4 linked regions of the Homo sapiens genome follow. The protein of the gene in region 4 interacts with the protein of the main gene of each other region in a biochemical or structural test. Each region holds a gene or a part of one and is shown on either strand. Other genes may lie near its edges.

What was found. The genes of interacting proteins can lie anywhere in the genome.
Region 1: the proteins of TJP3 (region 4) and EZH1 interact in a test that uses a peptide from one of them, tested with the Homo sapiens proteins (one large-scale study listed by IntAct).
Region 2: the proteins of TJP3 (region 4) and CIB2 interact in a test that uses a peptide from one of them, tested with the Homo sapiens proteins (one large-scale study listed by IntAct).
Region 3: the proteins of TJP3 (region 4) and TRMT13 interact in a test that uses a peptide from one of them, tested with the Homo sapiens proteins (one large-scale study listed by IntAct).

What each region holds. Positions count from the first base shown.
Region 1 is NC_000017.11:42,734,599-42,738,712, forward strand, and holds part of EZH1 (histone-lysine N-methyltransferase EZH1), read right to left. Parts: intron 1-4,114.
Region 2 is NC_000015.10:78,121,004-78,125,117, reverse strand, and holds part of CIB2 (calcium and integrin-binding family member 2), read left to right. Parts: intron 1-1,378; coding exon 1,379-1,413; intron 1,414-4,114. UniProt on the Homo sapiens protein: Calcium- and integrin-binding protein that plays a role in intracellular calcium homeostasis. Acts as an auxiliary subunit of the sensory mechanoelectrical transduction (MET) channel in hair cells.
Region 3 is NC_000001.11:100,139,491-100,143,604, reverse strand, and holds part of TRMT13 (tRNA:m(4)X modification enzyme TRM13 homolog), read right to left. Parts: intron 3,957-4,114; coding exon 3,894-3,956; intron 3,424-3,893; coding exon 3,354-3,423; intron 3,198-3,353; coding exon 3,091-3,197; intron 2,754-3,090; coding exon 2,586-2,753; intron 469-2,585; coding exon 396-468; exon of another isoform or gene 391-395; intron 1-390. UniProt on the Homo sapiens protein: tRNA methylase which 2'-O-methylates cytidine(4) in tRNA(Pro) and tRNA(Gly)(GCC), and adenosine(4) in tRNA(His).
Region 4 is NC_000019.10:3,746,384-3,749,462, reverse strand, and holds part of TJP3 (tight junction protein ZO-3), read right to left. Parts: intron 2,979-3,079; coding exon 2,768-2,978; intron 2,688-2,767; coding exon 2,587-2,687; intron 1,670-2,586; coding exon 1,382-1,669; intron 1-1,381. UniProt on the Homo sapiens protein: TJP1, TJP2, and TJP3 are closely related scaffolding proteins that link tight junction (TJ) transmembrane proteins such as claudins, junctional adhesion molecules, and occludin to the actin cytoskeleton.

The DNA.
Region 1 (4,114 bases), on a different chromosome or scaffold from region 4:
GTAGAGGCTGCAGTGAGCCATGATTGTGCCTCTGTACTCCAGCCTGGGTGACAGAGTGAGGCCTTGTCAAAAAAAAAAAAAAAAGTAAAGAAAGAAAGAAAGAAGGAAGGAAGGGCTGGGCGCAGTGGCTCACACCTGTAATCCCAGTACTTTGGGAGGCCAAGGTGGGCGGATCACCTGAGGTCAGGAGTTCGAAACCAGCCTGGCCAACATAGTGAAACACATCTCTACTAAAAACACAAAAATTAGCCGGGTGTGGTGGTGGGTGCCTGTAATCCCAGCTACTTCGGAGGCTGAGGCAGGAGAATCGCTTGAACCTGGGAGGCAGAGGTTGCAGTGAGCTGAGATCGCGCCACTGCACTCCAGCCTGGGTGACAGAGTGAGACTCGGTCTCAAAAAAAGAAGAGGAAAGAAAAGAAAAGAAAGGAAGAAAGGAAGGAGGGCGGGAGGGAGGGAAGGAAACAGAAAGGCAGGGAGGGAAAGAAAAGAAAAAAGAAGTATTAAGTAATGGAATAGAACATAATCTACAGATGCTGTCGTGTCTGGCTGGCTGTGGTGGCTCATGCCTGTCATCCCAACACTTTGGGAGGCTGAGGCGGGTGGATCACTTGAGGCCAGGAGCTCGAGACCAGCCTGGCCAACATGGTGAAACCCTGACTCTACTAAAAATACAAAATTTAGCAGGCCATGTTGGCACACACCTGAAACTCAGCCATAAGATGAGTTTTCACCACAGCTGGACCCTAACCAACAATTATCATATCAAAGTTAAAAAAAAAAAAGGGAACAAATAAAAAACTTAGCATTCACTAGAACAGGCAGATTTGGAGAGATGGATTCATTGGTGTTGGGCAAAGGGAGTGGCACACAAAAAAATACTTTATATTTCTACCAGATCTATTATTTAGTTACTTACACATGCAAAACAGCACTTATATTCCAGTTAGGTACTTAGCTAGTACTTAACAGCCTTTCATTATGTTCATCTACACATTGAAGATAAACTCCAAAACATATGCTGTTTTGATCAAGAAATTAAAAAATATTTATATAAGCAAGTCCTATAGCTCAATAATAAGACAAATCACCAATAAAAAGTGAGCAGAAGGCTGGATGTGGTGGCTCATGCCTGTAATCCCAGCACTTTGGGAGGTCAAGGCGGGTGGATCACAAGGTCAGGAGTTCGAGACCAGCCTGACCAACATTGTGAAACCCCATCTCTACTAAAAATACAAAATTAGCCAGGCGTGGTGGCGTCTGCCTGCAATCTCAGCTACTCAGGAAGCTGAGGCAGGAGAATTGCTTAAACCCAGGAGGCAGAGGTTGCAGTGGGCCAAAATCGTGCCACTGCACTCCAACCTGGGAGACAGCGAGACTCCGTCTCAAAAAAAAAAAGAGCAGAAATTTGAACAGCTATGTCACCAGAAAAGATACAGGAATGGCAAATGAGCACACAAAAGGTTGCTCCATATCATTAGTCATTAGGGAAATGCAGATGAAAAATACAATGAGATACTATTAAACACCACTACCATGGCTAAAATGAAAAAAGACTGATAATACAACTTGTTGGTGAGGACGTGAAGCAACTGGAATCCTCATACACTGCTGGTAGGAATGCAAAGTGATATAGCCACTGTGGAAGGCAGTTTGCCAGTTTTTCAAAAATAAAGCTGAATATATACTTACCACAGAACCTGGCATACAATTTCTAATTATTTATCCAAGAGAATTGAAAACCTATGTCTCCACAAAGATCTGTACCCAAATGTTCATATTTATTTATAATAGCCAAAAGTGAAAACAACACACATATCAATGGATTGGCTAATGGATACAAAATGTAGTGTGTATAGATATATACACACACAATGGAATACTATTCAGCAACAAAAAGCCATGAATAGTTTCTATACATTCACACCACATCTCAAGACCATTAAAAGACTATGCTGGTTGAGTGCAGTGGCTCACGCCTGTAATCCCAGCACTTTGGGAGGCTGAGGCAGGCAGATCACTTGAGATCAGGAGTTCGAGACCAGCCTGGCCAACATGGTGAAACCTCATCTCTACAAAAATACAAAAATTAGCTGGGCATGGTGGTGTGCACTTGTAGTCTCAGCTGCTTGGAGGCTGAGGCAGGAGAATCGCTTGAACCTAGCAGGGCAGAGATTGCAGGGAGGTAGAGATTGCAGTGATCTGAGAATGCGCCACTGCACTCCAGCCTGGGGAACAGAGCGAGACTCTGCCTCATTAATAATAATAGTAATAATAAAATGAAACCACCATACTAAGTGAAAAAAATAAGACGCAAATAACTGCATATGATTCCACTTAAGATGTTCTGCTGGCCAGTTGCAGAACAGGAACTCCCTGTACTAGCTTTACAATTTTTTTTTTTTTTTGAGACAGAGTCTCGCTCTGTCGCCCAGGCTGGAGTGTAATGATGCAATCTCGGCTCACTGCAACCTCCACCTTCTGGGCTCAAGCGATTCTCCTGCCTCAGCCTCTTAAGTAGCTGGGATTACAGGCACATGCCACCGCGCCGAGCTAATTTTTGTATTTTTAGTAGAGACAGAGTTTCACCATGTTGCCTAGGCTCGTCTTGAACTCCTGACCTCAGGTGATCCACCCGCCTTGGCCTCCCAAAGTGCTGGGATTACAGGCGTGAGCCACCGCGCCCAGCCTACAATTTTTAAAATAAATCTAAAACTATTCTAGGGCAGGCGTGATGGCTCATGCCTGAAATTCCAACACTTTTGGAGGCTGAGGCAGGTGGATCTCTTGGGCCCAGTTGTTCGAGACCAGCCTGGACAACATGGTGAGATCCCATCTCTACAAAAGAAATACAAAAATTAGTTGGGCATGGTGGCGTGTGCTTCTAGTCCCAGCTACCAGGGAGGCTGAGGTGAGAAGACAGATGGAGCCTGCACGATCAAGGCTGCAGGAGCAAGCTGTGACTGCGCCATTGCACTCCAGCCTGGGTGACAGAGTGAGACCCTGTTTCAAACAAACCAAAAACAAACAAACTATTCTTTCTTTTTTTTCTTTCTTAAAAAACAAACTATTCTAAAAAATAGAGTTTATTTTTTAAAAAGATTAATCATTGGAAATACGAACCACTTTATTTACTGTCACATCTCTACAGGAAAAGAAAGCTATAAAAATGTAGCAATCTTTCCCCAGAAAACTGGATCTCAATTTGCTGCAAAGGCTAAAACTAGAATGTAGTCTGTCACTAGGTGGAAATGGGAAAACATTACTGAAATTGTATGGCAATAAAAAATTTAAGGAACGGCTGGGTGCGGTGGCTCACGCCTGCAATCACAGCACTTTGGGAGGCCGAGACAGGCGGATCACGAGGTCAGGAGATCAAGACCATCCTGGGTAACACAGTGAAACCCCGTCTCTACTAAAAATACAAAAAATTAGCTGGGCATGGTGGCGGGCACCTGTAGTCCCAGCTACTCAGGAGGCTGAGGCAGGAGAATGGCGTGAACCCAGGAGGCGGAGCTTGCAGTGAGCCGAGACGGTGCCACTGAACTCCAGCCTGGGCGACAGAGCAAGACTCTGTCTCAAAAAAAAAAAAAAAAAAAAAATTTAAGGAACAAGTTCTTAAACTTAGAGAGACTGAGATCAGAATACAAAAGTTCCAAACTATTAAATTTTTTCATCTACATAAGGTGTCCCTTTGCAGAAACAGCTTCTTTGTCTTAGGGGCAAATTCAGTGTCTTTGATAGTTTCTCTTGAATAATAATTTTATTAACCAGCAAGGCTAAGTAAGCCTTTGGAGGCAGATGGCACTACAGATTTTTATTTTTTAATTTTATTTATTTGTATTTATTATTTGTATTTATTATTATTTTTTGAGACGGAATCTCGCTCTGCTGGGATTACAGACGTGAGCCACCGTGCCCAGTCTATTTTTTTTATTTTTTTTTGAGATGGAGTCTCACTCTGTTGCCAGGCTGGAGTGCGTTGGTGCAATAACAGCTCACTGCAACCTCTGCCCCAGCTAATTTTTGTATTTTTAGTAGAGACAGGGTTTCACCATCTTGGCCAGGCTGGTCTGGAACTCCTAACCTCAGGTAATTCACCCACCTTGGCCTCCCA
Region 2 (4,114 bases), on a different chromosome or scaffold from region 4:
TACAGAGGAACCACTGTCAAAAGCAAAGCTGAGACCCCCAGGAGAACCCCTCGTGTTTCCAAGAAGCCAGCATGGATCCTTAGTCTAACTCCCAGGGAGCAGCAGCTTAGAAGGACAGACTTGTTGGGCCAAATGGGGCCTGGAAATTCCCACCAGCTCTCCCCTTTTCAGCTCTCCCGAAGGCACCCAGTGGAAACCCCAGATGTTGTGTGCATCCTGCAGGCGTCCTCTCTTTGGGCCTCTTAACACGCAATCCAATTGCCCTGATGTCCAGCGGCTTCAGGTCTCATTCAGGGCAAGCCTGGCTGTTTGCAGGCCTGAGTTTCAGCCATTCACTCCTCATCAGAGCTGGCTCTGGTCAGCTTATGGCCCCAGGAGGCCCTATGGGCTCTGGGCTCTGCAGACCTAGGAGGCCTTCTTGCTTCATGCTGTAACAGTGGACAAAGGCGGAGGAGCTAAACAGCAGGGGAGGTGCACAAAAGCCCTTTACGGTTGGGCATTTTACAAAGTGCTGGGTCCTCTTCACCTCTATACTTTTCACCAAGGGCTGGCATAGTGGCCATTGTCACTGACTCCCAGTGGTTGATACTCACCTTGGGCAGGCCAAGCTGTGGATAGAGGCAGTTCATCTAAACAAAGACAGGACCCCTCCGAGATGAGTTTGTCATCTGGATGGCCCTAGGAGCCAAGTGCTGCCCCCCACCTGGAGTAATGCTTACCTGGGGATCCCCAGCAGCCCCTACCCTCACCTCTACCCCAGATGCTACCTGGTTCCCCCTGCCCACGTTTCTCCCTCCCATATCTCCCTGGCCTCTTCACTCCCTTCTCTGGGTGACCTCATCCCTTTCTGGCTTCAGACACCAAGTATATACTGATGCTTCCCCAGTCTATGTGCCTGGAACTCTCAGTCTCTGAGCCTGGGACTGCACAACCCCCCTAGCACCATGCTCAGGGCTACAGTGAGGATGGCACCCCATGCAGCTACACGAGGTGGCCCTGTGGGTCCTCATTCGGAGTTGTCTCCCAGCCACCTCCCTGTCATCCCCCAGTGTATCCCACTGGCACTCAAATCAGCCACGCATACCTGTGAGCATTCATCTTCCTCCTACATGTGTACCCTAAAGCATGCTACAGCCCCCCACCATGCACTAAGCTCCTTAGGCCTAGCCCAGGATGGATAAAGGTTTTGGGAGGCATTTTCTATACCTACTAGAGCCAGCTGTCCCCAGTGGGTGAGGGCAAGGTGGAAAGGGATAGTAGTGACTCTTCTGTCCCCAGTCCGGAGCTATCCCCTGTGAGCCCTGTGGCATCGAGGCCTCTGAGGAAGAAAGTCTGGGAGCCGCACACTGACTGTGTGTTGTGTGTTTTCCCTCAACAGGACTGCACCTTCTTCAATAAGAAGGACATCCTCAAGTAAGTGTGGCTTCTCGTTCACCCTGTTGGGACTGGGACTGGGGCCGGGGTGAGGCTGGGGCACCCCACATGGGCTGGCTGTGCTCCTGGGGCTGAGGCAGAGCATCAGCATGTATCAGGAGCCACATTCAGGTCCCCACTCGGCCACTGGGCTAGGATGGAGTTAGAGCTTCCCACTCCTCCCAGGGCCCAGATCCTCCTGCTGGGGAATGAACATCTACTTACTATGAGCTTTCAGGTGGGTAGTTTCCGGCACATTCTTATTTAATCCTCATTGTGACCTTGTAACAAGAGAATCCATTTATCCCCATTTGACAGATGGAGCTTAGCAACTTGGCTAAAGTCACAGAGCCAGGGACTCAAGACCCAGCCTCTGACTCCAGGTCCCTTGCTATTTCACTGCATCCTGGGTCCTGGTATAGCAGGGAGTCCCTGTCTGTTAGACCAGGGGTCCCTAAGGGCCCTTTGGCTCTAGCTTTGATGTTCTTCCACTCCTAGGACGTCTAAAAGTTGAGGGCATGGCCACCACCCCTGAGCTATTCATCAGGGCTCTGCTTCTTCCCAGGACAGCCCTTCTCCTTGGTGTTGATGGGGGTGGGGGTGGACCTGGATGGGAAAGATAAAGGGGATCGGCAGCCTCAGAACCCCAGGACCAGTGGGTGAGCAGGAATCACTGAATACCAAGAAAACTGCCCCACGGGCCTCACTAGGCCCCTCTGCCTGGGTGGCACTAAAAGCCAGCAAAGTCCCAGGATCACTTGCCCTGGAGATCGATGGTCAGGCTGGGACCAGAGCCCATTGCAGCTTCCCAAGAGAGCTGTGCTGCAGCTTGTCACTGCCCTAACCATTCTGCTCATTCAGGCAGTGCCTCTCGGCTTTCCTCTCTACCCAGGCTGCTATTCCAACCTGTCACCTGCATGGGCAGGGGATACCCCACTTCCACCACCTTAGAGAGTCTGAGCAAGGGGCAAAGCCTCCAGGCCTGGCATCAGTAGACCTGGCATCTGTGGCCTTGGGCAACCATTTGACCTTCCCTGAGCCTCAGTTTTCTTCTGTATAATAGGGATAGTGAAACCTACCCTCATAGCATTGCCGAGAGGCAGCAACACTGGGGTATAGTGTTTGATAAGTGGGATTTGCCCTGTAGCTTGAGAGATGTCAGGGGTGAGGTCCCCATTTCGACAGGATGGCTCTCGGTATTGGAATAACAAAGCTGTCACCCCTGGCATTCTTGTGGCACCTTTTACCTTTCAGAGTTCTTGGCATGGAGCCTCATTTGAGCCTCACAGGGAGCTTCGGGTTCCCTACCTTTGTAGATGCCAAGCCCAAGCTGCCTGTCTTCTGAGGCCCACGGCCATTTTCATTCTGGCAACAAAAGCCCCTTGCCTCGGCCTTTGCACTGGCTATCTCCACTCCCTGGAGTGTCCTTCGCCTCTCCTCTGCCCACAGCATTGCTATGCATCCTTCCAGACCCAACTCCAGAATCATCTCCTTTATAAGCACCCCCAACACCCTGCCACCCTAGTGCTATCCCAGCTGCTCTAACAGCCTGTTAGGGGCTCCTTGGGTTCCTGGACCCAGGGGCCCAGCTCCCCACCAGACTTGTGATCAGGCAGGACTAACAGGGAGCATGGCACCTGTTAGCCACCAGTGACCATATGAAGAGTGTGTGGGTGAAAGACAGGTAGGATTGGCTGAGGGAGAACATTCCAGGCTGGGGAGCAGCAGAGGTGAGACACAGGCCAGCTTCTCCTGCTCCCACTCCCACCCCCATCCTCCCGTGGTCTCATTGACAGCAGCAAGATTGCCTGTGTGGGGAAGAGGAGAGAGGAGCTTGAAGGCCAGTCCGGGAATCCGATCCAATATGATGGGCCTTTGGTGGTTGTTTTAGTCCATTCTCATGCTGCTATAAAGAACTGCCTGAGACTGGGTAATTTATAAAGGAAAGAGGTTTAATTGATTCATGGCTCCACATGGCTGGGGAGGCCTCAGGAAACTTACAATCATGGCAGAAGGGGAGGCAAACACATCCTTCCTCACATGGCGGCAGGAAAGAGAAGTGCTGGGCAAAGGGGGAGAAGCCCCTTATAAAACCATCAGATCTCGTGAGAACTCACTATCATGAGAACAGCCTCGGGGTAACTGCCCCCATGATTCAATTACCTCCCACCAGGTCCCTCCCATGACACGTAGGGATTATGGGAACTACAATTCAAGATGAGATTTGGGTAGGGACACAGCCAAACCATATCAGGGGTATCCCTGGCCCCTTGGAAAATGAGGGGCTCCAGGCAGGTGAGAGGGCTTGAGGAGAGGCGTCCTGGCTCCCCACAGCCCTGGCCTGCACCCCTCTGCACGCATCAGGACCCTAGGCTCTGTAATTCAACACCAGAGCAAAACCCAAGCCTGAGGCCCCGTCTGCAGCATGGGGATGACATTGCTTGCAGGAGCTGTTTTCTCACAGGCCCCTGTGTCTGGGAGGGCTGGGTGATGGTGTTATTAAACATGAAAAGAGCTACCTGGAGTTTGCTGCCCACCTGTCCACCCTCAGGGAAGGGTAGTTAAGACAAGACAGATTCGGGATTGCCTGTCCCTAGAGGGAACAGGCATGGCCATGATGGCTCAATTCCAGTTTCACCCCCCTTCGCTTTTCTCCAGCCTTCTCTGTGGAGAGGCCAGCATGACTGACTGCCCCTCCAGG
Region 3 (4,114 bases), on a different chromosome or scaffold from region 4:
TTACACATTAGCTAGGCAGAGAAATATCTCATTTTCTTTCATGGTTTAGGTAAAGTCACGTTAACTGCAGGCAGAAGGCTAGTTTATAGTTTGAACAGACTCAAAATTAATTTAAACAGGACAAAGAAACAACAGAAGTACATATTATAAAACTTTTAAACTCTTCCCTAATATAACACTTCATTTCCACTTGATACTGAAAATTTTTAAAATTCTCAACCTTAATTCAATTTACATCTATTTAAAAACATTATATAAAACATTCTATATTAACAATGAATTGATTTGACTGTTTTCCCTGAAGCACAGTTCTGCATGATTGGATTTCTAAGCAACCTCAGAGTTTAAAACAGTTATGATTTATTTGTAGACCAATGGAAAGTTACACAACTTACTCAAACACAAGTGTTGAATATCAATTTGAAGTCTTTCAAACACTGAATTTTTCTTTCTGTGTTTTCCATCCACCTGCACAAACAGAACATTATTGTAATAATCACTTCTTACATTTAAAAAAGCTTTATGAAAATAAAAAGATTTTTATTGGTTTTCAAAATTCAGAGCAACAGAACATATTTAAAAATTAAGATTGTACATTCTTTGATGAGAACTTCAAAATATCACACTTTTTAAAAAAGATTTGAAAATGTTTATCAATTATTACATAGACATTATTTCCTTTAACCCTAAAAATTCCCAATTCACTGACAAAGGAACTGAAGTTCACAGATCTTAAGTGATTTATCTAAGATTGTCTACTAGCTCCTTTATCTTTGTCACTCCTGGTGTACTATTTTTGGTTCGCTCCTCTTCTTGCTCTCCTGAAAGATCACAACCATTCTAATCTATACCTATGTGCCCACGACCGGCTGATCTACATTTGTGGCTCAGGCCTCTCCAATGGGCATCAGACACATACTCAATTGTGAACTAGAAAGCTCTACTTCACCAGCAAACTGGACACATTCAGAACTGAACTCATTATTTCTGTCTCCAAAACCATCCTTCCTCTTGTGCCTCCTTCATTCCTTATCTCAGGAAAGAACACCACTTAGTCACCTAAGCCATAAAAATCCTACCGAGAATTACTCCTTATCTCTCATATTCAATTACTAACAAATCACCAACTCTTGTGGCTTCCAACATCTTAATATTTCTCATACTCTTGCCCTCCTCTCCATCCCAATGCAATAGCTTTAGCTCTGGCCTCTTTCTTACTTGGATTGTTGGACAAAAATTATCTTTATTATTAATCTCTCTAAGTATCAGACTCTTCTAATATAGTTTTAATGGTGCTGCTAGGATAAACTTTGAAAAATTTCCTTCTACTTTACCAACTCTTACATATTATTTCAATCTCATCTCAACTGTCACTTCTGCAAAAACTTCTATGACCCACACTAGACTGAGGTTGGTGCTCTATCTTCATGCTCCCATAGGATTGGGTACTTACCACTATCAAAACACACTTAGCATACTGAACACAAATATTTATATGTCTACTCCACTAGACGTAAGCTTCCTCAAAGCCAAGAACTAAATCTTTTTTCTATTGTATCCCCACCAGACAGCAGCATAGTCAAACTCCTTCCTTAGCATAAAATATGAGACCTTCTATAGGCTAGCCATCCTCTCCAGTCCCATCATTGCTGAACTCTACTTTGCACCATGTACTCCCATTATACAGGAATGTTTCCATATTTTCCTGTTATTTCAGGTATTTGGTTACACTGTTCTTGCTTCCTAGAATGCTTCTCAAACTCTCTAACAAACACCAATTCACCTTTCAAGATTTAGTTCAAGCATCACCTTTTCTACATAGTCATTCTCCATCTCTTCCCTGCAATAGAACTTGTCACTCCCTTCTTTGAAACCATGCTGTACTCTGTGCAGACCTTTCTCGTATTTTAACACTTCACTACAATCATTTATGTATTTGCCTGGGTCTCTTTTCTAAATATAAGTAATAAAGTGGCTGGGCACAGTGGCTCACACTTGTAATTCCAGCACTTTGGAAGGGTAAGGTGGGAGGATGGCTTAAGCTCAGGAGTTCGACACCAGCCTGGGCGACAAAGTGAGACCCTGTCTCCACAAAAAATTTTAAAAAATTACCTGGGCATGGTGGCGTGGGACTATAGTCCCAGCTACTCATGAGGCTGAAATGGGAGGATTATATGAGCCCAGGAGGTCAAGGCTGCAGTGAGCCACGATCCTGCCACTGTACTTCAGCCTGGGTGGGGCCTGGCAGTATGCTCAAAAATTGTTTAATGAATGAAGGGCAAGTGGCAAAGATAGGAGTAGAGCCCAAGACTTTTAACTCCTAGCTTGAGCTTGGCTCTTTCTATATATTTTCCTGTCTCTGCAAATAATTTTAAGAATTCAGATCAATGGACTATCAAAACTTAGATTAAAAAATTCACCTTCAGTTTGAGTTATCAATACAATTAGAACTAATAAAAAGCTACAACAAACAGATAAAGAAAATTCCTTTCCTTTCTTTTAAGAAATGTTTCTATCACTTTTTTCCTGAATACAAAAAATGAAAACAAGTTTGGTTACTAACACAGAGCAATGGTTTCACTTACCTTGAATCTTGTGGTCACCTTTTCCACTAGGATGAAGTGAACTTTTTCAGCATCTTTTAAGGCAATATCAACCCAATGAGATAATTTTCCCTTTCCCGCTCCAAACTCAACAAAGCATCTTCTTGGACCAAGTAACTTTAAATTTTCAATGTTACCTAAAATAGAAGCCTGCAAACTTCACAAGATTATTTTATAAACTAGAGTAAACACATTTGGTTCAAATGGGAAAACAGCAAGGTAATTTCTGCATAAGGCAGTATGCTTACATTGATAATTTGTATTTGACTTAAAATTTTTCTCTCTTGCCTTTAAATATTTAATATACGGTACTCAGAATCACATCCATGCCCTCAATTTTTTGTATATGTTTCTATATATTTTTGAAATGGAAATATTTGGTACCCTCAAAGGTAAACAAAATAAAATCTTATTAATAATTACATTTAAAACAGTTTTAACAAATGAACAAAGGCCATGTTTAGTAGTTACTATAGCCTAAACATACCTGCTGTTTCAGGTGCTTGGTTGCAGAATCGCCATTTTTAGGGTCATTAAGTGCATCGTGTAATGCTGGATGGGACATAATATGATCTTTAAGTGTAGAATTCAAGCCTGTGCCAAATATAAGCACAACAGCTTAAGCAGCCAAACATGTAATTGTAGGATTCTGAACAATAGTAGTAACATATTTTAAACCAGAATGGTATCAACTCATATACCACCTAATTACTCTAAAATAATTGAACTTGCAACTTTAGGCAGTCTTACCTTCACTTGCTTTTCTCAATTTCTTAATTAACTTTTCCAACTGCTCTTCAGATAGAGAAGAAATTGGAACCTATATACAAAAATAAAACTAAATAATGTAGCCAAAAATTGCTTTAAAGTAGCATAACAGAGACTGAGTAGAGGTTTACCAACTGGGCAAATCCCATGACAGCTTAGGCTCTTCTCTCTATCAAGCCTTTTCCCTAAGCTGCCATCAGAATTGTCCAACTGCTAAATTTCTACTCCGTCTTTGCTGTGCTACTTTAATTTTCCTAACTTCCTCAAGGTCAAGAACAAGTCTAGGCTCAGAAGGGTTCAAGAATCAAAGGGGATTCAGGGCCATATTGTAGCTTCTTTTGTTATGGGGCATGAGCTGGTCTGGGTCTAGGAACTAACCATCACTAACAATATTAAGTCTACAGGAAAATGCATTCTAAATTAAAAACAGACTTGAGACAAAAATTAGAACATGCCTTATTCACATCATGAAGAGAGCTTATAAATATCTTTTAAAATTAAATATTAAGTCAATGTACTTACTAATTGTTCAGGTATTTCTGTTTCATCTCTTAAGCCTGCATTAATATCTTGAATATAGAAATCCTTAACAAAAACAAAACCATAAAAGAACTGTTAATAATGTGTAGCTCACAAAAATTAAACTAAAATACTGATTCTTCCCTTTATCCCCTGCTCTGTACCTGCCATCCTCCCTTCCTCCATTCATTTCTTCATGAAATCACTATTGAATATTTACTCTA
Region 4 (3,079 bases):
GAGGCTGAGATGAGAGGCTCCCTTTAGCTCAGGAGTTGGAGGCCGCAACGAACTATGATTGTACTACTGCACTCCAGCCTGGGCAGCAGGGCAAGACCCTATCTCTAAAATTTAAAAAATAAAATATATAAATTAGATAGGTCAAGTTCAAAAAGACACGCAACTACTATGTGCCAAAACTTGGGCTGAGCACATTGAGTGCTCACCACCGCCCTGTGCCACCAAGTCTGATACCATCCACCCTGTGTCCTAGATGAGGAAACAGGTGCACAGAGAGGTTAAAATGTTGGCTGGAGGCCAGGTGCGGTGGCTCACGCCTCTAATCCCAACACTCTGAGAGGCCGACGTGGATCACCTGAGGTCAGGAATCGGAGACCAGCCTGGCCAGCGTGGTGAAACCCTGTCTCTACTAAGAATACCTTAAAAAAAAAAAAAAATTAGCTGGGCATGGTGGTGCTCACCTGTAATCCCAGCTACCTGGGAGTCTGAGGGAGGAGAAACGCTTGAACACAGGAGGCCGAGGTTGCAGTGAGCCCAGATCGTGCCACTGCACTCCAGCCTGGGTGACAGAGCGAGACTCTAACTCAAAAAAAAAAAAAAAAAAAAAAAAAAAAGGCCGGGTGCAGTGGCTCACACCTGTAATCCCAGCACTTTGGGAGGCCGAGGCTGGAGTTCCAGACCAGCCTGACCAACATGGAGAAACCCTGTCTGTACTAAAAATACAAAATCAGCCAGGCATGGTGGTGCACGCCTGTAATCCTAGCTACTCAGGAGGCTGAGACAGGAGAATCGTTTGAACCTGGGAGGCGGAGGTTGTGGTGAGCCGAGATCACGCCATCGCACTCCAGCCTGGGCAACAAAAGCGAAACTCCATCTCAAAAAAAAAAAAAAAAAAGCCTGGGTGCAGTGGCTCATGCCTGTAATCCCAGCACTTTGGGAGGCCAAGGCGGGTGGATTACAAGGTCAGGAGTTCAAGACCAGCCTGACCAATGGTGAAACCCCGTCTCTACTAAAAATACAAAAATTAGCCGGGCATGGTGGCAGGTGCCTGTAATCCCAACTACTCAGGAGGCTGAGGCAGGAGAATCGCTTGAACCTGGGAGGTGGAGGTTGCAGTGAGCCAAGATTGCGCCATTGCACTCCAGCCTAGGCGACAGAGCAAGACTGCGTCTCAAAAAAAAAAAAAAAAAAAAAATGCTGCAAGTTACTCAGTGCCACGTGGGTCTCAGCTACCCCAGGTCTGAGTCCCAGAAACCAGTCTGACCAGGGAAGCCGTGTTTGTTGACGTCCTGGTAGAAAACAGGCTCCCAGTGTGTGTCTGCTCTGTGCTGGCATCCCCTCCGGAGACCCTTCCCAGGCCTGCCCCCCATGTCCGACGCACCTGGGCCCCCTGATGAGCCGAGATTCTCCCACGATCCCTCGGGCTCTGGGACTCATCTGCCTGCACGGGCTCCGAGGACCGGGCCAGGGCTGGAGCCGGGGGCTCATCATCCACATCCGTGTAGGGCCCCCCCTCGCCGTCTGTGTAGCCCTCGCCATCCGTGTACGCGCCGCCCTCGCCGTCCGTCTCGTAGTCGCTGTTAACGCGGCTGTCGCAGCTGAGGTCAGCGGAGCTGTCGGCCAGGCCGTGGTGAGGGAGGTCTAGGTTGTCCTCCAAGGAGCCATCCAGCTGTGGGGTGGGTGTGGATGCTGCGGCTGGCCCTGGCCAGGACCCCAGCTGCCACCCACGACATCCCCCCACCTTCAAACTCTGGTCCCAAATCAAGGCGAGGAGCCTGGAGCCTGGAGCCTCAGTGGAGGCTTCTCTGTTGACTCCAGGATGGGTTGTATCCATTGACCCTTCACCTGAGAGGCTCAGCCCCCAAATCCAAGCTGAGCCCCAAACCTTGACTCCAGCCCCAAGAGAAGACTCCATTCTCTCTCTCTTTTTTATGAGAAGGAGTCTCTGTTGCCAGGCTGGAGTGCTGTGGCGCAATCTCTGCTCACTGCAACCTCTGCCTCCCGGGTTCAAGTGATTCTCCTGCCTCAGCCTCCTGAGTAGCTGGGACCATGGGCGTGAGCTCCCGTGCCCCACTGACTCCATTCTCAAAACAGCTCCTCCAGGCTGGGCGCGGTGGCTCAGGCCTGTAATCCCAGCACTTTGGGAAGCTGAGGCAGGTGGATCGCCTGAGGTCAGGAGTTTGAGCCCAGCCTGGCCAACATGGTGAAACCTCGTCTCTGCTAAAAATACAAAAATTAGCTGGGCCTGGTAGCGCTCGCCTGTAGTCCCAGCTACTCGGGAGGCTGAGGCAGGAGAATCACTTGAACCCGGGAGGCGGAGGTTGCAGCAAGCTGAGATCACACCACTGTACTCCAGCCTGGGTGACATGAGACTCCATCTCAAATCAAACAACAAAAAACAGCTCCTCCAATCTCATCTCACCCAAGTTCCAGTCCAACACCCTTGTCTCAGGTCCCATCTTGACTCTGGCCACAGTCCTGATCCCTGACCAAGCCCTAACTCCCGACAGAGGCCCCAAACCCCAGCTGGGCCTGCACAGCGTCTGTGGGGCCTCCCTGCCCGACCCACCCACACCGCGGCAGTACCTGATCTTCCGCCGTCCAGATGGGCCGCGTCTGCTGCTCTCGAATGATGGCCTTGAGCTCCTGGTACCAGGTGTCACTCGTGCCATTCAGAGGGATGGTGGCTGCAGGGAGGGGACGTCAGTGTGTGCAGGAGACTCAGGCTGGGGCCCACCCGCCTACCCTGGGACACCCACCCCCCAACCTGTGAAGAGGTGGCTGCTGTGTTTTCGCAGCTTCTGGGCTTGTGCGTAGAGGCGACGGGTGCTGCGGCGGGAGGCAGGCGCCAGCCACTGGCGCAGTGCCTTGAGGGCCGGCCGGCTCTCGGGGATGAAGAAGACCACAATGGGGTAGTACTGCACATAGTTGAGGCGCTCGATGGCGGAGGGGGTCACATCCAGGAGCGCATGCTTGTCCTGGGCCAGGCCGGCGGACGTTGGGGTGAGGGGGATTGCAGCAGGGTAAACAGAGAGAGAAAGATAGAAAGATGAAGAGTCTGAGGTCAGAGTGGACCCCA